3 separate regions of the Homo sapiens genome follow, and regions 1 and 3 are each reported to be linked to region 2. The links are microRNA targets in miRTarBase. Many come from high-throughput screens and were not tested one by one. Region 2 holds a microRNA gene; each other region holds the end of a gene's coding sequence.

Region 1 (7,000 bases), not on the chromosome of region 2:
ATCCCCTCAAGGATCTCCTGGTTAGAGGCAGGTGTGGCTGACTCCATTGTCAAACCTCAGGCATGGAGTCATGGCCATGAGTTTGAATCCCAGCCGCTCAGCGGCTGCCTAGGTGAAATCACTCAATCCTCTGGCCCTTGCTCTCCTTCTCTGTAAAATAGGATAGACTTAGTATTTGCTTTATGGGATGGTTGTGAGAATCCAATGAGACAGAATTCAGTGAGACCGTAACGTGCCAGGCAAGTGTAGACAGCAGGGCTAGTGTATAATTGCTATTTTTTTGTTGTTGTTGAGACGGAGTCTCGCTCTGTCGCTCAGGCTGTAGTGCAGTGGCACGATCTCGGCTCACTGCAAGTTCTGCCTCCCGGGTTCACGCCATTCTCCTGCCTCAGCCTCCCGAGTAGCTGGGACTACAGGTGCCCGCCACCACACCCGGCTAATTTTTTGTATTTTTAGTAGAGACAGGGTTTCACCGTGTTGGCCAGGATGGTCTCGATCTCCTGACCTCATGATCCACCTGCCTCGGCCTCCCAAAGTGCTAGGATTACAGGCATGAGCCACCACACCCGGCCATATAATTGCTATTTTTTAAGTTCCAGGGTTGTGGTCACTCTGATGCAGGGACGGTCCCTTTCTAGGATCAGGATACCCAGACTTCTCCAGCCCTTCCAGACAACCTCAGACACCTCCCTCAGCTCTGACCCTGTGCTGAAGTATGTGTGGGTGTGTGTTGGGGAGTGGGAGGTGGAGGACTAAGGGTCCCATGAGGACCACTGATGCCTCTGGCCCCAGGCTCCTAACCAAGGGGTCCCCAGTTGGCCTTTCTTCCCTGGGGAAAGCTCCTCTACTGTTCTCTCCTTCCCAGGGCAAAGGTCTCTTTCTGGACAGCTAGGTTGGGGTGTGTGTGGGATGAGCCTCCAGGTGTGGCTTCCAAGGGCCAAGGGGAGGGTTCTTCACTGGGGTAATTGGGAGGCAGGACAAAGACCAGCAGTCCCTGGAACTTCCTGAGCCTTGCCCCGGGATGAGATGATCTTTTTTTTTTTTTTTTTTTTTTTTTGAGATGGAGTCTCGCTCTTTTTGCCCAGGCCAGAGTGCCGTGGTGCAATCTCAGCTCACTGCAAGCTCCACCTCCTGGGTTCGTGCCATTCTCCTGCCTCAGCCTCCCGAGTAGCTGGGACTACAGGCGCCCGCCACCACACCCAGTTAATTTTTTGTATTTTTAGTAGAGACGGGGTTTCACTGTGTTAGCCGAGATAGTCTCGATCTCCTGACCTCGTGATCCGCCCGCCTCAGCCTCCCAAAGTGCTGGGATTGCAGGCGTGAGCCACCACGCCTGGCCGAGAGATGATCTTTACCAAACCAGCCACTGAATGGTCTTTCCTGGAAGCTCTGGATGTGCCTAGAGTGCATCACAGGTCCTCAGGCCTAGCTTTGGCCATGAAGGGTAGGGTTGGGGGCAGAAGCAGAGCCCAAGAAGGGTGCACAGCCCTCCTGCCTTCCTGAGGGTCTCTCTCTCTCCAGGGAACACACAGACCCGCAGACCAGTTAAATCTCCAGTCCAGGACCACTCCAAAGTCACCCTTTCCTTTTGTTCCAGAGTTGGAGTCTGAGCCCCACTAAATACTCACTGTGTGACCTTAGGCAAGTCATGTTCTCTCTCTGTGTCTTGGTTTCCTCATCTGTAAAATAGAGGAGATTGTTGCTGTGATTGTTGGGCCTAGAGTACATCACAGCTGGCGATGCTCTACAGAAATAACCAGGCAGGGCAGGTGGCTGAGGATCCAGAACTCTCCCCAAGGGAGTGCAGAAATGAGCCATAAGATCATCTTTGCAGCTGAAGAACATAGGTCCTCGTGCCTAACCTCCTTTTGCTCATCCCCTTACTATACAGATGAGAAAACTGTGGGTGTCACAGGAGTGACCTGGGTTTGATTCCTGGTGCCACCAGTTACCAGCTTTGTACCTTTGGAAAAGTTAGGAAAAGTCTCTGGAGTTAGTGTCCCTCTCTGGGGAGGGAGGGTCATGGGATCCTCAGGACAAAATAAGGGGTGCAGGTGCAGGTGCAAAGGCTTGCCCAGCCTCTCCAAGAGACGGCATACTCCAGACCAGTGGGTCTCCACTGCGGCTGCACACTAGAATCACTCAGGGAGCTTTCTAAATACTCTTTTTTTCCCCCAAGACAGGGTCTTGCTCTGTCCTCCAGGCTGGAGTGCAGTGGCATGATCTTGGCTCACCGCAGCCTCCACCTTCTAGACTCAAGGGATCCTCCTACTTCAGCACCCCACCCCACCCCTACCCCCCGCCCCGAGTAGCTGGGACTACAGGTGCATGCTACCACGCCCGGCTAATTTTTGTGTTTTTTTGTAGAGACGAGGTTTCGCCATTTTGCCCAGGCTGGTCTCAAACTCCTGAGCTCAGGTGATCCTCCTGCCTCAGCCTCCCAAAGTGCTGGGATTATAAGCGTGAGCCACTGCACTCAGCCCAAATACTCCTTTTAAAAATAGTGATTTTTAAAAGCTTCCCAGGTGACTCTAATGTGCAGTCAGGGTTGCGATCCACTCATCTACAGTCTTGCTAAGCTAAGTATGGCCCAGCAACATGGCCATCACTTGGGGGCTTCTTAGAAATGCAGAATCCCAGGTGTCTGGGGCTGTCTGGAAGGGCTGGAGAAGTCTGGGTATCCTGCCCCAGACTTGCTGAACCAGAATCTGCATGGTGACAGGATCCTGACACCCTTACAATTTATGTAACTGCAGTTTTACAGCTTGGGAACCACTGGCTGGACAGATGTGTGTTTAGGGGAAGGATAGAGGAGGCAATTTGACAGCACCTGAGGCATGTGAAGGAGGCGAAGGGGGAGTCTGTGACTTCCATCAGAAAGATGGACATTCAGACACAATGGACTTTGGGGACTTGCGGGGGAAGAGTGGGAGAGGGGCGAGGGATAAAAGATTACAAATATGGTGCAGTGTATACTGCTCGGGCGCTGGGTGCACCAAAATCTCATGAATCACCACTAAAGAACTTACTCATGTAACCAAACACCACCTATATCCCAATAACTTATGGAAAAATAAAATAATAATAATAAATAAAACTAAAAAAGAAAGATGAACGTTCAATTTGTACAATTATAAGACTGAGGCCAAGAGACAAAGTAGTAAAAGGAGATTCTCCCCATCTTGCAGATAGACGCGGGTACTTACCAGCCTGATCGCATTCTCAGTGCGATGGCTCACATGCAGAGACGGGGAGCTTCCATTGGATCTTACTGCTTGCCACCCCATAACCTTGCTTTTCTTTGAATTTTATTTGTTTTCATGTATATATTTAAACTGAGCCTACTTTGGGGAGGAAGGGGGCAGGGAGGCTGTACTCCATCCGTGCTGGATAGAAAAACAGGCCGGGCATGGTGGCTTATGCCTGTAATCCCAGCACTTTGGGAGGCCAAGGCACGTGGATCACTTGAGGTCAGGAGTTTGAGACCAGCCTGGCCAACATAGTGAAACTCCGTCTCTACTAAAAATACAAAAATTAGCCAGGTGTGGTGGCGAACATCTGTAATCCCAGCTACTCAGGAGGCTGACGCAGGAGAATTGCTTGAACCCGGGAGGCAGAGGTTGCAGTGAGCCCAAATTGCAGCACTGCACTCCAGCCTGGGTGACAGAGCAAGACTCCGTCTCAAAAAAAAGAAAAAGAAAAAGAAAAATCAAAAAACGGTTAAGGCCTCCAAGCAGGCAGGTGGCAAGAGAGGAAGTTTCTTAATAAAATGAACAAGGCAATTTCACACCAACTTGATGTAGGCCCAGCCAGCTCTGCAGTGCCGCAATACTATGGTTTATTTCAGGGAAGCTGCTGAAAGTTTCTTGGAGTGTAGAATTTGGGCAGATATGAAGGGGGGAAAAGGCGAAGAGAGAAGTAAAATGGCTAAGCAGCAAATGAAAATAGTGTCCTTGAGCTCCGGGGTCCCCTGTCCCCCATGGCCAGGTGCCTCTGCTGGTATCCTCTGCTCCTTCCTCGGCCTTGGCTCCCCTGCCAAGCTATTTCCAGGCTTTGAGGGATTCATCCTTCATTCTTGGGCAAGGAGAGGAGGCAATGCAACCCCTCTAGTGTGAAGGTGATCTTGGGCACACTGAAGGCCAAGGTCAACTCGGCATCATGTCCCAGGAAAGGGAGACAGAATTTCGGACCCAGGGTTGCCTGGTAAACTTCTTGGATCCTCTTCCTGCCTACTTTTTCCCCCATGAGCAGGCTGACGGGCCCATTTGGTGCTAGGTGTGCCCTGACCCTGGCCCGGTAAGGGTGGCCCTGTGTGAAGTATGGGTGCTTGGCACTTGGCTGGAGGACTTTCTCCTCATGCTTGGCAGGGGGCCAGGAACAACCTGGAGGGCTGCAAAGGTCAAGGCCAAGCCACCCAGGTGATGTCACTGGTAGGCTGGGACATCCCAAGCTACTAGGCCGGGTGGGAACAGGCCCCAGCATCGCCTCCTAACTTCCTTCTGGGTCCCACAGTGGAGGAAGTTATCTCATGAATCGCCAGTGGGCTAGCCTGCCCTCCAGTGGTGCTCAGCTGTAACTGCACCACCCTCCCGACTTGGTTTTTCACAATGGGGTGGGAGGCTCCCCCTAAGATCAACTTGTTTTAACTACACGAGGGAGACAGGATGCTGATCTGTCATTTTGGGCATCTCTTCACGTCATATGATATTCGGCTATAAAAAGAGAGGAGAGCTAGGATAACTCGTTTTTGTTTTTTGTTTTTTTTGCCGGTAACTTTGCTCGTCTTGCTTTCCTGACCTCTCCAACAGTCTTAATGTGTGTCTGTGTGTTGTGGGGGTGGCTGCTAACCCACATACCTCAAAGACAGGTAGCAAAGGGTTAAGTCACATTCTATTCCATGCCTGTCTGACTTCCAAAGCCATGTTCCTCTGGTACAACATACCCATGCAAACTCTCTAGGCCAGGGTCAAAGAGCAGCAAAAAGTGGGGTCAGGTGGGGTGTCAAGACAATGGGGAGTGGTGGGGACTGCAGCAAGCTGAGGCATGTGTGCACATCTAAAAGGCACAGTCATGTGACTCTTCAGTGGGAGTGCTGGATTAGCACTTAAAAGCAAGCAGAATCTGAATTTTTATGTAAAATTCCCAATTTTGAATACTGACAATGAATTCAGAAAGTAGTTTCAATGTTATGCAAGTCAAACAAAAAATGTTTCTAACATGCTGAGCTTCTATAACACCCTCACGTTGCAGGCGAGGTCTGGAGAGAGGAGGTAACTTGCCCATGGCCACGTGACTAGAGACAAGTCCTGAGCTGGGAACCCATGTCTCCTGACTCCCAGGCCAGTGCTCCACTCAGCACACCTCTCTGTTGTTTGCGCTGCTGTCCAGTCCTTACGGCAGGGGGTGAACCACCTCTGACTTCAGTGGGGTAAGAGGAAACATTGGATTCACGCTAGACGTGGAATACCATTGTGTTTATTGATCAAGCCTGGCTTCGAGTGTGACAGAGCCATTCTTGGTTCTCCTTGGAAGTAACAAGAACACTGGGTAACATGTGAAGTGCATGGAGACTCACCTGAATCCCACCAAAGTAGTAGCTGGACCCAGTAGCCTAGCTTATTGTCTTGGCAGTGCCCCCTACCCAGTACCATTAGACCTGGCTTTGTCCCTTACATAGGACAGACTGGGCTTCTCCACTCCCGCCAGGCTGGCCCTACCTCCACCTGTCCTTGGAAGCTAGTATGTAAGTAAGGGAGGAGTCATCAAGTTTATAGATGGGTAGGCTGAGGATTGAGGCAGGAGGGGACTTAATGGCTGAGTCCCTGGCTTGTTCCAGAGCCCTGGCCCTTGAGCCCCTGGACTGGTCAGTGCATGGACACTCTCCCCTCCCAGCTCGGGCGGAAGACTTTTCCTGACTTAGCTGCTCCATACACACAATCTATAAATATGTATTTGCTTTAAAAATTAATAAATTAGATCTTGGGCCAGCCTGAGGTCATCTGGCCAGCCATGAGTCCTGTGACATGGACATTTGTCATGTGTCATATATAGACCAACAATCATGTATCCTGCTACTTGGGATGCCAGCACCCATGCCACAGAACACGTGCCACACTGACTTTCATGTAACGCCACATGTCAAGGGGTCACACTGCCACATATAACCGTACGTGTCATGCATTGTCATGACACCCTCATTGTGTGTCGCATGTCCCCAATTGATCACACATATCCCACGTAATGCAGGGTACTCCTTTGTCCAGACCCAGCTCCTGGTTCCCAAAAAAGTTCTCCCTGAGGACTGCAGCAGGACACACGTATCCTTCCTCCTGGGTGGAGTGCAGAGCGCCCTGCCGAGGCTCTTCTTTCCTGAGTCAATTATCCCAGTGGGCGAAAGGTGGATCATTTGGGTGCATCACTTGGCTGGATTCCAAAGGTCTTGAGGGGGCCATCAAGTACCCCAAGGGGCCTGGGGCTGGTTGTCAAAGAAGGCAAAGTCCAGCCTGGGCTCCTGGCTCTTCAGGTGCTGGGCCATGTCGCAGGGAATGGGGTTATTCCAGAGGCTGTGGGGCACAGATATAGGCACTCATTCATCCTCCCATCTTTGCCATCTGTCGTATCTGCAGATTGGGAGGCTGAGGCCCAAAAAGGTAGAGCTGTGCCTAGAGTTACCTGGCAGAGGCAGGTGTTAGACCAGCATAGCTGACCTAGGGAGAGGGTGTACCCCACACCTGCCTCCTGAGTCCTCCAACTCAACCTTCCTCCCTGGGAGATAGTGATGCCAGCTAAGGCCACACTCATATGACACATTTGTGCAAATAAGGAAAAGACCCTCTTTCTTCAAGATGTTTTACTTCCATCTGTCTGAAATTGTCATAATATATGATTTTGGTAGAACAAGGTACTTTACTCTCATCTGCTAGAAATCTAGCAGGTTGACAATGTGAATGGTGCCCCTTAGGTTTAATGCCCTTGTGCAGTGCACAACCTATACAACTGT
Region 2 (10,399 bases):
TTTTAAGTATAAATAATCCCAGGGGTTGAGCTGGCTTTTGCTTGTGCATTCTATGAAGTAAAGTAGGGACATGGTTTTTGTGGCAATAAATAGGAATAGTTTCCATTTTTCTAGCTAAGTATACAAATTTGATAATTAGCCAAACCAGTTTTCTGTTAGAAAAATTCAAAGTAATTTACAGAGGAAGAATTGCCAATAGGTGTGCGTCAGTCTGGGACAGAGTTCCTCCCGTCGGTGTTAATAAGCATGTTAGTGTCCTGTTTTTTTCCTACCCTCTCAGTGCTATTCATTCCCACCCCCCACAATGATTGCTGCATGTATTCATAGAGGAAAAAACTGAAGGCCCCACAACAATGATCGGAACATCAAACCAGCCTGAGAAGAACACAGCATGTCCAAGGGGGCTGAGGCTGAAGGGCAGGCCATCCCCCAGCGATTACATTCGGATTACCGACTTAATCTGCTTTGGTATTTGACCGCCAGCCTAACCACCCCAGGCTGCATTTGGAGGATATTGAGCACTTTCATCCCCAAGCACTTCACTGGCTTTATAAATGACCCACTCGATTCCCTTCGGCCTCCTCTGGGATGGGACATGGCAGCTGTTTAATTGCCACATAGCAATGTTGCAGTGTTTTAAGGCAGAAAAGAAGAATCCTGCATCCAGTTGAAGCTGCAGGGAACATTTAGGGAAGGGGAATGTAATTATCCACATTGGAAGTGGGCCAGGGTTTGGAGCTTTGGGGAAAGAGGCCTTTAGGACTTCTACTTTCCAGCCCACCTGAAAGATGGGGCCTCCTTTCAGCAGTCTGGGACATCAGCCTGCTTCCTGCTGATTTAGGAAAAAGCCCCCAGGCGCCACCTCCTTTATATATTCCCCATCAGACTCTTCACCGGGGTGGAAAGTCTCTTTTCCAAGGTCTGGCTGGGGCTCAGCTGGGAAGATATGACAGCGTCCCGGGAAGCTGCCTCACACCAGTTTGGGTTTAACATATAATCAAATCAGAGTGACAGCAGATGGAAACAGTCTTCTGTTGCCGCAGGAGCCGTCCTTGAGTTCAGAAACAAAGACGGGGGCAAGAAAGACAAGACAAAGTGTGCATTTGTACATGTGTGTTCACACCCATGCACTTGTGCATAGGAAAAATAAGAAGGACTTCCCCAAAATCTTTTATTGGGTCTTATCTCTAGAGGGAATGGGAAAGGAGACTTTCTTCTACATTCTAACAAAGAATTTAATTCTCAAGGTGTTTAAACAAAAAATAAAGGTGAAGCAGCCAGAGGTGTCAAGTTCCCTGAGTGGTTTTTAAGGTCAGAAGTAAGGAAATCAGCAGCTGACTTTCTTCCTTCTTTGAGTACTTCTTGGGAAGTTTTCTGTGTAAAACTCAAAATTTTTTGGAGTAAAAGTGCACAGAAAACCCTGGGGTGGTTGTCGTCCCTCCAGGCCACCTTGGTGCATTATTATGCATTAGGACACCCATTTTAGCAAGGCCCATGACTTACAGGGGCACCTCACTTATCCAGCCCTAGGTCGTGAGGTAGTCCTCATAATTTACTTTTTCAGATAATCAAAGCTTACCCTTTAAAGGCCAAATATAAAAAATAAATTGAGCTACTTAAAAAAAAACAGAAACCTTTCAAAATATTACATGTGCTTATTGAACACTTTCAGAATAAAGTTTTATTAATAATTCAAATTCTGGATTTGGAGTTAGGAGACCTGGAGTTTAGCCGTGGCATTTGTAAGATTGTCTCCTTGAGCCTCAGTAATTCTTCATAGTCTGTTTCCTAGAGAGTAGTGGCAAGGGTTGAAAGAGAGCAGTCAGGGAAAAAATGCTATTTCTCATTTTAAAAATACAGACATTGGGTAGATGCTTTCTTTTTTTTTTTTTTTTTTTTTTTTTTTTTTGAGACGGAGTTTCACTCTTGTTGCCCAGGCTGGAGTGCAATGGCACAATCTCAGCTCACCACAGCCTCCACCTCCCAGGTTCAAGCGATTCTCCTGCCTCAGCCTCCCCAGTAGCTGGGACTACAGGCGTGTGCCACCACACCCAGCTAATGTTTTATTTTTAGTAGAGACGGGGTTTCTCCATGTTGGCCAGGCTGGTCTCGAACTCCCTCAGGTGATCCGCCCGCCTTGGCCTCCCAAAGTGCTGGGATTACAGGCATGAGCCACCACGCCCGGCCTGGAGTAGATGCTTTCTAAAGGAACTTCCACCTTTAAAATCTGTGATGGTTGTGTTCTATTATAAAGTGGCACCATTGGAGTCTAAGGGTGCTTGTTTGCCCTTACACTAAATGGTCCCAAGTGTTTATGTGGTTCTGACACTGCCGTCCAGTGTGAGTTGTCCCCGATACCATTGTCAATATGCCTGAGAAAAAAAGTAATTTCCTGCCTTATTCTACACACAGCATTTTATACCTAGTCTGAGCGAGAATCTGAGAGTGATCTTTCCTATAGTATAGAGTAGGGTACATGGATCTTTTCACAATAAGCTGCTGCTCGGAGGCATTTGTCACTTCTGAGTTTGCAACTGTGTCAGAGGCCCCCAGAAGGCTGCTTCCAGTGAAGTGAGGTATTAACACTGAATAGATTTGGATATACTCCTGGTCACAGTCCGTTCACTTAAGAGAGAAGTATTTGTGGGGGAAAAAAGTTGCCTATAAAGCATATTTCCAAGTTTTACTCTTCCTTATTAATTTTCATTATAAACTTGGAAATGTGTTTCTAGGGAGAATTTTTGGCCCTAAGAGGTAATAAAATCACACTGCAGAATGCAGCAGACCTTATAAAAGCACATATTTAAGGGAAAATTCTAATTTTACAGCACACTTTTGTGTTCAGCTTGTGTGCCTTACTTATACCGGTGAGGGCGTTTGGATTTGACACAGCTGCTCAAAAGGTCTAAAGTAAAACCGCCGGCTGCCTAGTGCTGAGAACCTGACTGTAGCTCTCAACTCCTACCTGGAAAAAGACACAAACAGAAACAACTGTAACTGAGTACTGTGCACTTTTTGAGTTGTTTAGCTCCTTAAACAGCTACAGAGGCTGCTGGTCTTTAGCACCAGCTGGGCTCCTCAGGCTGGAGGATACCATAGTGGGCAGCCCCGGATTCCAAATGCAGCAGGAAGGGAAAGGAACTGGGGGATAGGAGGTCATGGCTCAGAAAAGATCCCCCTGCAGTGATGGACCGCATGGTTCCTGAAAATGAAAATCTCAGCAGGGGTTTTCAGGTAGTCCATTCAACTAGTTTCTTGATTTATAATTTTCATAATATATGTGCCTTAAAATCTTATGCAAGCATCTGGGTTATGAAACAAGGTAAAATAGAGATGGTTATTTGCATTCTAGAAGGATTCCCTTTTACAAAAAATTCACATTAGATCTTTTATAAACCGTGCATTTAAAATATGGCATGTGCCTACGATTTTGTTTAAATGCAGCTTTGGAGCGTTTTTTTGTTTTTGCTTTTTTCTTTTTTTTTAAGCAAGGTATACCTGAAAAGAGTGAATTTCTATATTTGGACTTTCTGAATCATGATACAGACCTGCCGAACAGCTTTCACCCTCTTAATTATTTTTTCCTCTGCATGTTTTTGAGGGAAAAAGTGTGCTTCAACTCCTTTTTGGGATCCAAATTTTCTCCATTACCAGAAACAACCCTTTTCCTAATCTTCACATCTTCTCCTTGCTTGAAGCCACACCTGAGGGTTTCTTGACTCCACTTGGCTCTTCTCAGAGCTTCATTCCAGTTCCTTTTGCCTGAGCACCCATGAGATGCGCTTTGAGGGTTGTCTAATGTTGAAATGCTCTACTGAAATTTCAGAAGTTGTGAGGTCCCTCCTTAGATTAACAAAGCTGAGAGTAAAGGCCCAACACTCCCACTTTCATCTTGTGCTAGTTACCTAGTGTGGTGCCGGTGATTCAGCAGAAAAGAGCAGAGACCCTCTCTTCACTCTCATCCTGATGCTTGCTTCTCATCCCGATGCTTGCTTCTCTCCCCAGTGAGAAAGTGGCGTGTGAAAAGTGCCCTGGGAGCCATGGGCCAGTGGCAGCTTGAAGTAGGAGACCCAGCGCCCCTAGGAGCAGGGAACCTGGGGCCTGAACTCATCAAGGAAAGCAATGCCAATGTACGTCCATCTGTCCAGGTGTCTTGCACGGACTGAGGTGGGGGTGGGCTGTGGGCTGCTGGCTCTTGAGGGCAGGGACCATGTCTTGTTCACCTCCTCGCCTCCAGTGTGCCACCTGGACACAGCACTCTATAAATGTTTGTTTGAATGAATACAGACATTTTGGCTTGATCGTCCCAGGGCGGGGGCTCAGGGCCTGGAGTGCTGTAGCAATAGCAGCGTCAGAGGGGAGCAGTGGAGAAGAGCTGAGGGTCTTGTTGTGCCCCGGGGTAGCGCTCTGATGAGGGTGGAGCCTTCCCTTCCCCAGGAACAGTCCTCGAGTTGGATTTGCCTTCTGCAGCCTATCTTCATGCGCAAGGACACCAAGATGAGTTTCCAGTGGCGGATTCGAAACCTCCCCTATCCTAAGGATGTCTATAGTGTCTCTGTGGACCAGAAGGAGCGCTGCATCATTGTCAGAACAACCAACAAGAAGTGAGTAGCGTGGAAGGCACCCTGTGTGCTTGTGTATGAGCGGGGTGTAGGGTGGGGTTTGATCTGGCGTTAGGATCATTATTCAGGCCGGTCCTGCAGAGAGGAAGCCCTTCTGCTTACAGGTATTGGAAGGGCTTCCTCTCTGCAGGACCGGCCTGAATAATGTAATCAGCTCCATCGGGGAAGAGAAACTTGAATGAGTATCTAGTATAGTACCTGGCATAGATAGGGGCTCAGTAAATATTTGTTGAATGAATGAGATGATGAGGGAAATCACAGGACCATTAACTTGTGGTCTCAGGTGGTTCTGCTGAAAGGTTATTATGACCTTGGTCTCCTGACTGGAGCCAGGCCTTGGTAAGGGTGGCCTGGTGACATCACTGTCAGAGCTGGCAGGGAGCCATAGCTTGGAAGGCACCCCTGTCTGAAGTGGGAGTGACAGTCCTTTAAAGCAGTACTTGACAGCAGTTTAAAGCAGACTGGGCAGCAGTAAACCTAATCCCTCCCCAGACTGACAGTGGGGCAGATGCTTGGGCCGCTTGGAAGTCTCTTGCATAATGCTTCAAAAGGGGTACTCAACTTCCCTTTGTGGTCCCCTAGAGGGGAGGCAAACTGCAGGGGTTGAAAGGACAGAAGGTGGCCACAGTGCATTTCCATTTTGGAAATGCATTGATCTCATTTAGGTTTCTGGAGCCCTGACTGATCACAGGAGAACAATGCCCTGTGTGAGGCCTGAAGGGAATGACCCTGAAATGAATCAATCTTGACCTGGGCTAGAGAGAATACAGTCTAGGGACAACTCCCACAAAATAGATTTGGGCATTGAGATGGGAGGTTTTATAAGTTACCTGTCTGCAAGCTGTGAAGCCATTCAACATGCCTCATGGGGATGCCCCCACCCATCTCTTGCTTTACATGCAGTAATGGGGACACAGCTCCTTGTGCATCTCCTCAGGTGATGTGGTGCCAGTCTCCCCTTCCATCTCCCTCAGGCTCACGAGGCCCACAGGGAAGCAGGGTAGCTCCCAGACTCCCCCATCGCAGCCCTGGGTGCTGCCATCCTCTTGTGACCCCCATATCCCATTGCTTTGGCAGGGTTAAGAGGACAGGGGAAAGGGTGGAGATGGATGAATTAATTTCAGGATTATTGCTGTACATGCAGCCAGCAGCCCCTGCAGTGGGCCTTGTCTATAAATATAAAGTCATAATAATAAGGGTTTGTGTTTATAAAGCACTTTGAAGCCCTCAGATAAGAGGCAGTTTATTCCCGTTATTGTTCTCATCATTAACAGGAGTCACTGCCTAAAGTGGAATTTAGCAATTTCAGACAACAGAGAAATTGCCTGTAGGAGAACAAACTCCATGCTTCAGCAAGCATTCCTTGGTGGAAGAGGCCTTGGGTCCAAACTGGGAACAAAAGTGCTTCTGATAGCACTTGAATCTGCAGCCCAGCACTTTGTGAAGCTGGCTGCTGCCTCTTTTTTGTCCCCCAGAGGTCACTGTCGAATACAGATATCAGACAGAAATGTGATTACCAGGGAGTGAGGAAAGAGGCTAGCTAGCTCACCAAAAAATTCATCTGCCAGCATATCCTCTGGGTCCCATCTCCTGCGCACATCCAGCCATAGGTGGCGCTGTTGGCCAGGAGCTCCATGGCTGGAGGCCCAGGCTAGCTCTCAAGGCAAGCAGGGGTTGTTGGACATTTTTGAAATGATGGGTGAGGCCAGGTGGGATGGGAGTGATGCCCCTGGAGGGGCAGGGCTGAGGGTTGGATTCCCATAGAGGACAGAGGAGTGTTTCAGGGCCCACTTTGGAACCCACACTGAGCCTCTGGTCCAGTGTCCCAGCCTGGCTCATCCCTGCCCTCCTCAGGTCTCTCTGTTGGGAGGTAACCTAGAGGCCGCTGAACCCTTAGCCAGATCGTTCCCGAACCTAGTGGCATTTTTACCTTCTACCTGGAAGAATGTATTTTATACCTTTACTCCCATTAATTATATAGAACTCAATGGGTATTCCTTTATTATTATTATTAATTTGGAAGGGAGAGATTTATTTCTCATCAGGGGTTACAGCCTGCATAGACATTCTTTTTTATTTTTATTTTTATTTATTTATTTTTTTTTTAAGAGATGGAGTCTTGGCTGGGCGCGGTGGCTCACGCCTGTAATCCCAGCACTCTGGGAAGCCAAGGCAGGTGGATCATCTGAGGTCAGGAGTTTGAGACCAGCCTGGCCAACATGGCGAAACCCTGTCTCTCTAAAAATACAAAAATTAGCCAGGCGTGGTGGTGCATGCCTGTAGTCCCAGCTACTCGGGAGGCTGAGGAAGGAGAATCGCTTGAACCCAGGAGGTAGAGGTTGCAGTGAGCCAAGATCATGCCATTGCACTCCAGCCTGGGTGACAGAGTGAGACTCCATCTCAAAAAAAAAAAAAGAGATGGAGTCTTGCCCTATTGCCCAGGCTAGAGTCCACTTCTTGCAATCATAGCTCACTGTAGCTTTGAACTCCTGGGCTCAAGGGATCCTCCCGCCTCATCCTCCTGAGAAGCTGGGACTATAGGCGCATACCACCCAATCTGGCCAAGTTTAAACAATTTTTTATAGCGTTGAGGGTCTCTCCATTTTGCCCAAGCTGCTCTCAAAATCCTGGGCTCAAGTGATCCTCCTGCCTTGGCCTCCTGAAGTGCTGAGATTACAAGCATGAGCCACCACACCCAGACCAGGGTGGCCATTCTGGCAGGTGGGGAAGTGTGGCCTCTGGCCAGAAGCCAAAAACTCAATGGCTACTCCCTTCCACAGTGTTTAGCTTTTTAAGGATATAGTACATTTAAAATCTGTTTTCTGATCATCATTCTGTCAGGAGGTGGACAGGATCCATACTTTTATTCTTGTGTTATAGATGATTATATAAATGTATATATAAAGTCAGCATGATGAACCAGCTTGCTGAAAGTTAGTGACTGTCTCTCCTGATACTCAGACATCTGCACTTCAGAAATGCACATCATGGCATTTCTCTCTGATTTGACCTCTTCCTTCACCTGGAGGTTCCATAACCTGCCCCAGTTCTAATATTCTGGAATGTGGTTACTAACCAAAGCCAGAGTTTCTTTACCCATACTTGCCTTGTCTCTGAAGAGCTGGGTTGGTGACTTTACTTGAAGGAATTGATTGCAGTGTATCATGTCCTTGGCCTCACATATTAGTGAGGGATGAATCAGGGAAGGAAAAAAGTGCTTTTCCAGGATCCCAGTGTTGGACCATCTATTCCTGATAACGTTTGTGCAGAAAGAGGGCTCCTAGCCTCAGCCTGGAAGTTGGCCGCTGTAGGTGGAATGAGCCAGGGTGCAGGAGTGAGAAGTTGTTGGGTTAAATCTGGCCTCTGCCACTGTTAGCTGTAGAATTTAGGCAAGGTTTCCTCATCTATCAGAGAAGACTCACAGCTACTTCACAGATTTTGGGGAATTTGATGAAATCATATATGTACAGGCCAGCACAACGGCTGGCCTGAAGCAGGTCCTCAACAGTTCTTTGGAAATTGGAATCTGAGGAGAGCTTGGCTGATTTGACATCGGTGATAGTAACACTGTGGGAGGTGTTAATAGGCTTCACTAGAAAAAAGGATTCTGTGGTTAAATAAATTTAAGAAACTCTGGATTAAACAGGCTTCTCTTTGGTGGGGCCGAGAGCCTTTAGTATGTGTGTGTGATTGTGACTGTCTAGCAGGGGGCGACTGTGGGTGGGGGTGCCAAGTTTGCCCAGAGCCTTGATGTTTAAGAAGATTTGCTTGCTGCTTTTCTAAAGGCGGACTGGTTGGAGGCTTCTCTGGACCCCTCTGGCCATGCGGTGTGCAGGTGTGCATGGCACCCCCTCTGAGGTATGTGAGGCATGACCCAAGTGATTGTCCACAGCAGCCCTGCTCCTGCCTTCAGCCTCCAGAGTCTCTCTCCCTCTGAGGGCCTGGCCTCTGGTGCCCTTTTGGGTTGAAAGGCTGGATTGGGGAGGGGATACAGTAGAGAGTGGTGGGAGGCAATAGATCATTACTGAAATAGTCAAAATGGAGGAGTCGTCTGTCAAACAGGGAGAAGACAGGTACAGAGTTGGCCTGTTCTGGGCCCTTTGACATTGACTTCAAGTTCATCTAGTGCAGCTCTTTTATTCGAAGAAGGAATGTGGAAACTGAGGCCCAGAAATTAAGTGACCTGTCCGGGGTCACAAGGCAGGGCCAGGAGTTCTGCTACAAGCCTTTACTTCCACATACATCTTTTGAAGACTTTTGACATTCAGAAAGGAAGGCCACTGATGTGTTGGAGAGAGTACCCAGGGGACCCGCAGAGTGTTCGGACCCCAGGGGAGACAACCTGTTCATTGTTGAACATCCCCACCTCCCACCTCAATATCTGCCCCATCATTGGACAAATGCAAATAATCTAGACTATGGCGGGCTATTACTTTGTGGTGAGAATGTGGAGACATGGAGGTGTCAGGAGATTTGGGGAATTCTCACTTTAATACGGGCTTCTCTGTTTACCAGCTTTGTGAGTTGGGCAAGATATCTAACTTTTCTGGGCCTCAGTTTCCTTTTGTTTAAAAGTGGATAATAGAAGTAACCAACCTGAGAGAGTTGTTTTGACAATTAAATGTGTTTAGAACCTGGCACAGAATAAGCTCTTAAAATGTCATCTTTCATTGTATGGCTGAAATAGAACATTGAAGGGAGGTGGGAATGGGGGAGAGCGGGGCATCTGCAGGAAGCCAGGGAACTATCCTGCTGTAAGGGTTCATCTTTTAGCAGAAACAAAACAAGGTCTGATCAGCAGGGATATGGCCTTGTTCCTTTTTTTGAGATTGAGTCTGGCTCTGTTGCCCAGGCTGGAGTGCAGTGGCACGATCTTGGCTCACTGCAACCTCCGCCCCCTGGGTTCAAGTGACTCTCCTGCCTCAGCCTCCCAAGTAGCTAGGACTACAGGTGCTGCTACCACGCCTGGCTAAGTTTTGTGCTTTTAGTAGAGACAGGGTTTCACCATGTTGGCCAGGCTGGTCTTGAACTCCTGGCCTCAAGTGATCTGCCTACCTCGGCCTCCCAAAATGCTGGGATTACAGAAGTGAGCCACTGCATCTGGAGGCCTTGTTTCTTCTTCATCCTTTTCTTTTAATTTTTTGTAGAGACAGGGTCTCGCTATGTTGCCCAGGCTGGTCTTGAACTCCTGGCCTCAAGTGATCCTCCCACCTCAGCCTCCCAAAGTGCTGGGATTACAGGCATGAGTCACCAGGCCCGCCCTCTTCTTCATCCTTAAATCCCCAGCTCACAGCTCAAGGTCTGGGACACAGTTGATGCCCAATAAATGTTTGCTGCCTACCTACAGCTGCCTGAGGCTGAACGTTATGACCCTTCCAGAAGCACAGTGGGTCTCTCTCTTGTCCAGGTGCTGGTGAGAAAGTCAAGTACAGTACCTATCATGGAAAAACCCTATGTCTGGGGGAATGGGTGTGAGAAGGGGGTGGGCTTCCCCAGGAGGAGAAAAGGCAGATGCTCCCTACTCCCTTGAGCCTATCGGGAGCTTCTAAGAAGTTGGTTAACCTCGACCAATAAACTAAATCTATTACAAGAGACTCAAAACCAAGCTGAGCCTCCACCTGCTCTGCCTCCATTCCTCTTGCCTGGTGGTAGGAGTAGTTCAAGGAAAGCAGGTGCAAGCTATGCACCTAAAGTTCCCTCTGATCCTGTCCTTGCTGTTGTGGCCAAGCCCTGGGATTCATTTTCCGGTCCCACTGCCCCAGCCTGGGGGAATGGTT
Region 3 (10,399 bases), not on the chromosome of region 2:
ACCCCAGATCTCCTGAACCAGAAACTGTGGGTGTGGGGCTCAGTGATCTGCTTTGAGTCCTCCAAAACTACAAACTGCCCTAACCCATGCCGAGTGAGAGAGAAGGCATCTGGAACCTAGGTGTGAAACAAGGGAAACCCATGAAGTGACCCACTTTGCCTGGCACCAGTTGTAAACAGTACAGTGGATGAGACTGCAGGCTCTGGAACTAGCCTGCCTGAGTTTGTAACCTGACTCTGTCAGTTACTAGCTGTGTGATCTTAGGCAAATGACTTAAGCTCTCTGGGCGTCAATGTCCTTATCAGTAAAATGGGGATAATATAACCCACATCTTAGAGTTGTTTTATGAATTAAGGTTTTAGTACATGCCACAAATTTAGTGAGGCAGTGTCACTGTCTGGGGTAATTATCCGACATTTGTCATCTCACGCCAGGGAACTCGAGGACACAGACACACAAGAAGTGGGTTTAGGACCGGAGGTTTAATAGACAAAAGAAAGAGAAAGGAGAATAGCTCTCTCTCTTGCAGAGAGAGAAGGGTGCCCAAGTGGGACTTCCAGTCTGTGGCGAAGTGCATAGGGTTTTATAGACCGGCTTGAGGTGGCGGCGTCTGATACATAGGGCTCAAAGATTGGTTGAACCGGGTGTGACATTTACATAGGGCACGAAGAAGCTGGCCACCCCATCCTAATCTTTTCATTATGCAAACGGATTTTCTACCTGGCGGGCACCATCTTGTTTCCTCCTTACTGTTCATGTGGTTGACAAAGAAAAGGGAAGATGCAGCCACCATGTTGAACATGCCTAGCCCCCAGGCAGCCTCTTCCTATTGGCACAGCTGCCAGTATGCACCCATGCAAGCTTCCAGCTTGCTTATCTATGTCTGCAGCTCAATTTTACAGGCTGCTCATTTGCTCAAAGAAATGATTTGGGGGTTGCTTTTTATTAAAAGGAAAACCTTACCGAGGACTTCTTTACCCTCACTCTCTGCCTAAATAATTCATTTTTAACCAGTATATCATTAGCACAGTTCCTAGCACATAGCACTTAATACTTATTTTAGGGTCAACTGTGGCCATTTAAATTATCACGAGCTGGTGAGCCTCATTCTTCCACTCTATATTTTCTTCCTTGTCTTCCAGGAAGCTTCTGGAAAAAATTAGGCTAGATCTTAAAGAAACAAGTCTCAATCTTAAAGAAACTTGGCTGTTAGAAAGCAAGAGTTTTAATAATAAATATAAAATTGAATGCACCTCCTTTTGTTCCTTCCCTATAAAAGTGCTTTTCCTTTTTCTTCCTTCCATTGACCCAGCCCAGCCTTCCCAAACTATACATCCTTCTTCTGCTCATTGCTCTCATATCAGTGGTTACATAAAGAACAGAAAACACGGCAAATGCAGAGAAAAGTTATTGAATTCATTTTAGGCACACCAAAAACTTGTTGTATTAGTTTAAAATGGGTTTATAATTCTAAACCATTTTATATCATTCTACCTCTTATAGCAGTTTTCTTATTAGAGACTGATATAAGTAATGTTTTTAAGAGGACGTCCCATCATCAATAAGTTTGTGAAATTCTGCATAAAGTAGGGTAGATGAGTTACCTTAATATTAACGTGGATGATGCGTGTTCATGGGTGAGAAGTCATGAGTAGGATTCCCCGTCTTTTGACTCTGCCTCCCACTTTGTAAAGGATCTCATAGCGTTAGCACTCCAGAGAGAACACTTTGGGAAATGTCTTATAGGAAAAAGGAAAATATTTCCAGGTTTTGGAAGAATTGTTGGTGAACAGATTAAAGGAAAACCTAATACTGTATGAGTAAGTTGTTATGTATAAGAAAGAGAAAAGATTGTTTTTCTCTTTAAAGAAGTAGCAAACAGTAGGTGTTTTCCATGTCTCCAAAGAAATACAATGAATTTAAAATGCTTTAGGAAAATGAACTGAATGCTCTTCTGCTCACTCTACCCCACACAAAATGCTCATGAGATATCTATTTAGCATCTTCCCAAAGGAGAGACTTCCCGAGTGTGTCCAAGACTGGGCCATTATTGGAGAGTGATGAAGTGATGATCCTTTAATACTATTCTCTGCTCCATGAATATTTCCAGATACTGACCTTGGTGATAACCTGCTCTTACCTAGACTTCCCATTTTTCCTACTCAAGAAAATTGAAAATGTAATAATATTAACTTTTCTCTTTCTCTCTCCCGCTCCTCTCCCCTTTCCTTCTCCATTTCCCCATCCTGTGTCTTTTCCCTTGTCCTCCAGGAACCTTCTGCATCATTTCACTGTGCACCTGTGTGGCCGGGATCAACTTTGAGCTGTCACGCTACCCACGCTACCTGTACGGACTCCCTGATGACATCAGCCATGGCTATGGCTGGTCCATGTTCTGTGCATGGGGGGGCCTGGGCCTCACACTCATCTCGGGATTCTTCTGTACCTTAGCCCCTTCTGTTCAACCTGTCCCGAGGACCAACTACCCTAAATCCAGACCCGAGAATGGGACAGTGTGCTAAAAAACAAACCCATACATACATATATATATATAAATATATATATATAATATACATATATAAAACAAAACAAAACTAAATCAAGACGATGCCAGTGCCAAGGTAGAGTTGAGTTGGCTCAGGCACCTGCATCTCGCCGGACTTTGTGTTGCCTCATCTCTGAGATGGGGAAAGTTTTTCCATCCTGTGGCTCTTCCATCAGTTCTTGACTTTTGGCTTCATGGTCTCTTGAAGACAGAGCAAACACCACCACTTGCGACCGCGTCTTGATCCCCATCACTGGCGAGGATGGGGTGGTGAAGGGACAGTGGAAGGGGTCTGAGGCAGCACAGATGTAGAGAAGGAAGTGCCACCCACTGGGTCAACGGGAGAGGACGCCACCCCTAACCAGTCATATCACAGGGTAACAAAGCCCTCAGTTCCTAGAATGTAACCAAATTATTGAGGCCATTTTCAGAATCACTTCTTCTCCTGCTCTTCCTGTTCGGACTTCCTTCCCAGCCCACCAGCAACACACAAGGAGTGGAAGAGAAAACAAACTGAGAAGGACGTTTTCTCTTTGCTGCCAAACTTTTGGACCATGTTTCATAGGTGGGAAGGGAAGAGAACATGCTGAGAGGCAAGATCTGCATCAATGAAAGGACGCTTCGGTGGATGCTCAGACAACCCAGTCTTACCTTCCAGCTGCCTTACACCCAGTGAAACAAGAGGCCACCCTGTCCCCAGCCGCACCTGCACTCCCTGGGCAGACTGGAGCCTTGGAGTCATGCTGTGATGTGTGTGTGTGGGTGTGCGTGCATGTGTACTTTGGGCGGTTTCCTTTTTTTCTTTTCTACCTTTTAAATGGAAATACTGCATTATGACTGTTGTCTCTCTTATCACTGTAGTGGTTTCATGGCCCCAGATAGAGGCCCAGAGACCTAGAAATTGTCATGAGGGACAGGCCTATAAGGGTGCCAATTCTGCAGCTACAGATCCCTGGAGTGGTGTGTGTGTGCGTGTGTGTGTGTGTGTGTGTGTGTGTGTGTGTGTGTGGTGGATGTTTCTTGAGCGTGGGGTTTTATTGTTTGTGTTGTGTTTTTTTAAATTGTTTCTGGTATAGCTGAAATTTCCAGAGGGCAGAACCAAGAACAAAGCCACTGGGCCAGAGGACCCCCGTGGTTCTCCACATTACAGCTCTGGGACTCTGCACGATTTAGTCCTCTAATTTTGGAAGTTCAAGACACAGCTGGGCACATAAGCCATGAGAGAAGAGGGGGAACACACAGTTCAGGAGAGAGAAGAAATGTTGCTCTGGTTGCTGTTGTACAAGAACATAAACCAACAAGACCTTCACTCCCCATTATAGAAGCTGTCCTTTGTCACTGGACATCTCCCCTTTCCCTAGGGGTGACCTCTGTACAAACGAAAGGAAGTGGGTCACATGCAGAGAGAGCACCTCCATTTCCCATGGGCTCAAGTTTGTATGATATTGTGTAAATTAATGCAGAACTCTTGACTCTTTCCATCCTCTTCCTTTCCCTCTTGATATTCAAGGCCATGAATCCCAAAATAACAGTCTTAGTGGCTAGCACCCAAACAGAGGTGGAATAAATCCACCCCAGTGTCTCGGGCTCATTTGAGCAAATTAGCACTGCAGGTGCTGGCAAGCAAAGTCAGCCAGAGAGTTGTGAACGCTGTAGGGGTGGGAGTCTGCTGGAGTGGGCTGGAGCCGCTCACAGTCATCTCAGTGAGCCTGCTGGTGCCCAGCAGCCCTGGGGAGGCCAGGTGAGAATCCCTGAGCTGGTGTAGCCATGGTCAACTGTGTAGCAGAGAATCCCCTTGTTTCATAAACAAATATGCTTTGGGAGCTTTGCCAGGCACTCAGCAGCCTTTCTTCCACTGCTGTGTAATCTGTTTCATTTACACGTCTTCCAACCCATCTTCCTACCACTCTCCTCCTTTTCTCACCTACTAACCACTTACCTTCTCTCTCTTCTATCTTCCACCCTCATCTGCTCCTTTGAACTGCGTGTATGTAATTCATATCTGGATATGATATGACATCTGATGTGCATGAATGGGGTTGAATGTGGATCTCTCTGTATGTGTATCTCTCTGGTGCATTTTGTGTACGTTTGTGTCAGTACACACCTGCACACAGGTGTGGGTGCCCTACTCAAGACTTCCTTACCGGGGACTCTGGTCAGCTTCTGCAAAAGGTCTCATGTGTGAGTTCCCTGTGTGTGGGTGTGCTGGGCGATAGGGTAAGGTGTGCAACGGGAAAAGTTGTTAGCTTCCAGTTGGGGTTCTAAGGATTATTTTTAAAACAAAGGATTTATTCTATGAGAAGGGAAATAATTTTCAGGAAAACCCAGTTTTTCAATTGGGCATTTTATTTCTAATTTTCTTTGAAAAGTTAGATTTCTCCCTTAAGGGGAAGGGCATACTTGGGCTTAAGGAAAAGTGAAGAAAAGTATCTCAGATTGAGAGGCCTTTTGTCTTCCTTCCAAGCGTCCTGAAGGGGCTCTGCCGAGGAAGGGACAGACAGGTTCACAAGCATCCATTTGGGGGAGAGGGCTTGTCTATGACCACACTGAAATTCCAGCTTTTTTCCAGTTGCAGGAGAGAGGGGAAAAATTCTAAATGGGGAAATTTGCTATGAACCATTTAAACTTTTTGTAAGTAATCATGTTTGAGGATGCTGGCTCACAGACCTATCATTATTTATATCCTCTTTTTAAAAAAAAATCCCATACTTTCAATGAATAGATTATCTGCTCTATCCAATTATTGTCTTTGTGACAGACATTTAGCAAAGCTTACTGCATCCCTTTGAAACCTTGAGAGTTCCTGAAATGTTAGAAAGCTCCCAGGAAAGACGTAAACAACCTGGGCTCAACTCACCAGCCCAGAGCAGGGGCTTTGAGTGACTTCTTTGATAGCAGGACCAGATAAATACGAACACACTTTGGGATCTGATCCTGCTGGGAAGCAAAAGACGCCCAGCCACATGACCAGGATAGAGGCCCCTTTCAGACGGCAAGTCCTGGCCAATGGGAGGACTTCTCAGGTGACCTTGATCCCTCTAGCATAAGGGCTTGACCACAGATTAAAACATGTGACTCCAACCAGTTACGGAAGCTTTCTGGCTGTGAGGTAGCTGAGGGAGATGAGGAGGAGGAAGAGAGGAGCCTTGACTTGTGAGGCTCTGTAGGTCAGACTCTGCTAACTCCAAATCAAAGTGGAACCCAACCTTATGAGGGCATTTAGGGTCAATGACCTCACTAAAGTCACCAGCCGCAACCCCAGGTCAAGTTCAAACTTCTTACTGGCATATGAACATGTATGTGCTTTGAGCTCCATGCAAGTCAACCTTGAGCCTGGGGCCCATTGCAACTTTTATTTCCTTCCCTACTCTACTACCTTGAGATTCAGGAAAGTGAGGTATTCTACCTAGAGAGAGGTCCCATATCTTTTTCTCCTTATTTTGGGAGTTACGGTTTCTTCTTCTGTTTCCGTTTCCTCTCTCTCTACTCACTCCTACTTTCTCCTGCATCAACTTTGGTCAATTAACATAGACAAGTGATTCATCTGTAGAGAGGCTCCTAGACTCCAAGCAGCCCCCTTCCTTGTTCATTGTGGCTGTAGGTTTTATAAGGAGGTCTGTGGCTCCCTGGCATCAAAATATGAAAAATAAAATCTGTGCCTGTTCCAGCTTCAATCCTCCTCCAAGCCTTAGCTTTTCAACAACCCTACCCTTTCAACTTCAGGGATCATGGAGTCACAGAGACTGGACAACTCCTCCAAATCTAGACAAAGACTTTCTTAAGCGCCCTGAGCCCAGGTGCATATCTTCCCATCAGGGATGAGTGGTCCCACCTAGCAATGCTTGCCTCTCCTGTGACAAGAGGGTAGGATATCCTAGGACTCTGAGACTGGGCCCTATATCTCAATATTCATCCACACTCATGATAAGATGCCGGAAATGAATGCACTGTGTGTAGCTGTCTTGATTTAGTGGGAGGATGTGCTGCTTAGGTCTCCAAAGATGCCCACCTGGGTCAAATTCAGAATAATGAACTCAGGTACATCACCCAGAGGCATTTAGAATGGACTCTCTCTTCACCTGGATTATGTGCTGAGTGTTAAGTGATTTTTCAAATATCTGGGGGAAGGAGTGGGAAGAGATACACTCTGGTCATCCTTTGGTGTGGTTTGTGGGGGATACTTGGTTGATTCTTGTAGTTAAAGTGAAGTTGCTTTTCTGAAAATGTTCCCTGTCTTCAGGGGACTTACCCATCCCAGGGGACACATCCATCCCAGGGGACACAGCCAGCCCTTTCCAGGGAAATACGATGTTTCTGAGTGAGAGGTGATTTCAGTGCAGATAGGAAGAGCTGGTGCACACCAGCAGGGTTGCCTTCCATGCCATCTTCCAGCTGGTGTGGGATAGACTAAGGGGGCAGATTTTTAAGAACCCCACCAGAGTTGACATACACACGTGATTCTCGTGTCTGTCTCTCAAAGCTCTCAATGTCTGGGGCTGTGTTTGCCCTCTTTTCATTGATGCTGCCATGATGCAAAATGTTTCTTAAACATTATTCCTGGTTCTTAGAATATGTGATTACTGAGTATTGGATTTCTTTCCTGAATAATAACTGCTCATTGTAGAAAATAAGAAAAATAAAATACAAAAAAGACTACAAGATTTTTCATAATCCAGTCACTCTGAGGCATCTACCGCGGGCCCAATCCAAATGGTCATGACCTCAAAACTTCCCCAATGAGTGCTTGTCTCTGGGTTGGCAGCTGGGGCCATGTGAGCAGTGTACACCACAGAACCGCACTGGTCTGCGTTGAGTTGACCCTGTGTTCCTGGCAGCAAGAGTGCAGGGCCCTGAGCCCCCAGAGATAGCAAAGAGGCCTAAAAGTTTAATGCCAGACCTTAGGGGCAGGATGGAGCAGGGCTAAAAGATGTCTCTTTGGGCCTGTCTGCCTGCTTTCCTTCCTTCCTTTTCTTTCCTTTTTTTTTTTGGTCAGTTGCCATCTCAATCTAATCATAGATGTAAGAATGCGGAAGCCAGAGTAACTCACTCATTAAGCTACACTTGTGTAACAGTTACTGTAAATTTCACTACAGCTCTGCACTGAAATGATTTGTGACTCTGGGCACTGTGTCTTCTCCATACTTGAACTTCCTCATCTACAAAATGAGGATAAGTGATAACACCTTACCTCATGGTATATTAAGGGTGACAAAGAAATTGCAAAGTGATTTGCAAACATGAAGTGTCATATGAGTTATGTATGTTCTAATTATCCCTCAGAAGACCCCCCGCTGGAATGGAATTCTCACATCAAGTGTCTGTGCCTCGCTGCTGAAGGATAACCCAGAGTGCAAGGTCATCTTTGTTGCTGAACAGGGCTGGACCTGTCGCACTTAAGCACACTTAAAGGATTCTATTCTTCATTCAGGTCCCCCAGAGAAATTGGCTCCTTATTTTTCTTTACCTATTCCTAGACTTCCTTTTGTCTAGAGCCAGTTTTGCAAAGGGCACTTTTATCCATCTCAGTTATTCCCAGAGGTGACAGAATGAGTAAACCATATGGGGCAAATAGCATATATGAGCTAAACCAGTTAACTGTTAACCAAGGCACATGGTCAATGCCTTAGTATTTTTTTTTTTAATTCTCCTAACGTTATTTCTAGCTGTACATTCCCAAAAGGAATGGGTGGAAGCAAATCAGATTCTGAAAGGTTTCAATGATCTTTCAAGTTTAGGATGAGACCAAGTCTCAAGGAGCTGGGATCTTCTTTCTCTTGTCAGTTGCTGAAGCCAGTAGCTTCGTCAAAAACATATGAATTCATATAAGGAAGCCCTTTAGATGGTACATTCACTAAGACGTGTCTGGGTGTGATCCTGTTTGGGAAAAACAGAATCCTAGGTTCTAAACAAGAAAAGAACGCCCTTCCCAAAGGGTCCGCACACTTTCTGCTTTGCAGCGGATCAAGTGTCCTTGTGAGGGTGAGACTTCCTTCAAGGGAAGGGAAGCCATTGCTCTCTCTGTAGATAGAGCCCAGCTGGTAACGGGGGAGCCACCCAACTGCAGGGGGGTGTATGTTCAGGTGTGAAAAACAGAAAACTGGGTCTGAACATGAAGAGTTGCACAGCAGTAGTTCGAAGAAGCTGGCATCTCTTTGGCAAACACCAACCTCAGCAAATGCAACTCCTACACTTCATTCCCAAGGACCAGGTGTTGCTCCTTAAGGAACTCTGTATCCCTCTCTCCTCTCCAGAACCCCATTCCTCCCACTGGCTGAGCTTTTCCTTTCCTTTCCGGGTCACCCATAGACCCTCTCCGTCTGTACCAGTGCGTCTGTGTTGTGAGCGTGACGAAGCCTTTCCTGTGAAGAGCTTTCATGAACTCATTCTCATACTCCTTCCCCATTTCCACCCATGGTGTGACTGTTTTGCTATTCAAGACTATCTGTAAAAATGTACAAATAAAAGTGAAAACTGAAAATAAAGGGGAGGGAGATTGAGATTAAACAAATGCAATGATGTAGCCCTTAGTTTTCTGAGGACTTCTGTGGACGGCCCTAAAATCCTGAGTTAGGGTGGGATATGAAGGGAGGGATACCATTGACACAGGAGGTTTTTTTCTGGTTGTTTCTCTCACAGTCATCAGTGTCTGCTTAGAACTCTCTGTTCTAAAGGTTTTTCCCTGTAAAGTAGAATGCACTTCCCCCAAAATAAAAGTAAATCAGCAATGTTTGAAGGGTCATGGCAAGGGTCATGACAAAGACCTGACTCTGGGGTGGCATGAGTGGCCCTGTCACCGGCTCACTCAGGGCCTTGGGGGAGTCTCATTACCTCACCTTGTCTCCACGTCTTCTCAGCCAAATGGGGATCAGGGGCTTCCAGGGCTCTGGGGGTGCGCAGTCCCCTTGTGTATTTTGCTGCTATTTCTAGAGAGACTTTGAGCCCTTGCTAGTGCGTGCTTACTGCATGGAGGTAAATTAGGAGATGTTTTCTCTCTGCTACTCCTGGCCTCTGCTTTCGCCCCTCAGAAAGTGACCTTGAGCTAGCAGCCAGTTTGCACTCAGAGTCCAGAGCCTTCTATCTACCGTTTCATTCTCAGATTCCTTTTCCCACCCACTTTGACGATCTCATTTTACTATCAGTCTCTACTGACTGAGCTTTGCTGCACTGGGCTGGGGTAGGAGAAAGAGCATCCAAGGAGATGATGTGTGAATTGCTTTGTAATTTATGACTCACCATATAAATGTGGCTTGCAGTGTCAGAAGCAGGGAGTCTGGCCAAGGGTTGCTACCAAATAAGACTGAAGATGGTGGAGGCAGTGGTGGCGTGGAGGCAGTAGGCAGAAGATGTGGGTTGGGAGCAGAGGTAAGATGAACGGAGCTTTGGGAAGGACAGATGGCAGAAGCACCAGAAAATCCTCAGCAAGGCAGCAGAGAAGGATCCTCAAAGCAGTAACCCTGAAGTAATAGGAAGTAGGAAAGAGGAGCAGGGATTAGGTAAATCTGCAGCATAAACAGCTGTCTCCCTGCAGGACTGAGAAGACCAGCTGCCCCAGAGAGGGGAGGCACGTCGAGCTTGGCCAGTGACCCAACCCATGATTAGAGGCACCTTCAATCCCAACTTTCCTCTCCTCTGCTGGGTCACAGTGATGGAACCAGCTTCAGGAAGGTAGTATAGACCAGCGTCATCCAATGGAACCATGATCCAAGCCACATATGCAATTTAAAATATTCTAGTAGCCACATTTTTTAAAGTCCAAAGAAACAGCTAAAATCAGTGAAATTAATTTTTAGACTACATTTTAACCTAACATGTCAAAAATAGTATCACTTCAGCATGGAATCAATATAAAAA

Evidence for each region. Region 2 holds the annotated microRNA hsa-miR-3158-5p (CCUGCAGAGAGGAAGCCCUUC, at 4,733-4,753, opposite strand). A microRNA usually pairs through its seed, bases 2 to 8, with sites in the 3' UTR of a target mRNA and lowers its output. Matches are read on the target gene's strand: a 7mer-m8 pairs with bases 2 to 8, a 7mer-A1 pairs with bases 2 to 7 and ends in A, and an 8mer does both.
Region 1: miRTarBase lists NLRC5 as a target of hsa-miR-3158-5p. The part of its 3' UTR that is shown has no 7-base or 8-base seed match.
Region 3: the mRNA of TMEM178B is a reported target of hsa-miR-3158-5p. Seed matches in the 3' UTR shown: 7mer-m8 at 3,481-3,487 and 7mer-m8 at 10,047-10,053.

Annotation. Positions count from the first base shown.
Region 1 is chr16:57,081,980-57,088,979 of GRCh38, reverse strand. It overlaps NLRC5 (NLR family CARD domain containing 5), which reads right to left. Exons shown (of 49, transcript NM_001384950.1): 49 at 5,460-6,563. The coding sequence ends at 6,452. Among named protein-coding and RNA genes, the nearest start is that of CPNE2, 7.1 kb to the left of the region's middle. RefSeq lists an enhancer at 4,318-4,447.
Region 2 is chr10:101,596,733-101,607,131 of GRCh38, forward strand. MIR3158-2 (microRNA 3158-2) reads right to left here and starts at 4,765; the gene lies at 4,685-4,765. It overlaps DPCD (deleted in primary ciliary dyskinesia homolog (mouse)), which reads left to right. Exons shown (of 6, transcript NM_015448.3): 3 at 4,006-4,130; 4 at 4,471-4,604. It overlaps MIR3158-1 (microRNA 3158-1), which reads left to right and starts at 4,685; the gene lies at 4,685-4,765. RefSeq lists an enhancer at 266-834 and a silencer at 6,154-6,313.
Region 3 is chr7:141,468,265-141,478,663 of GRCh38, forward strand. TMEM178B (transmembrane protein 178B) reads left to right here. Exons shown (of 4, transcript NM_001195278.2): 4 at 2,272-10,399. The coding sequence ends at 2,522. Among named protein-coding and RNA genes, the nearest start is that of AGK-DT, 78 kb to the right of the region's middle.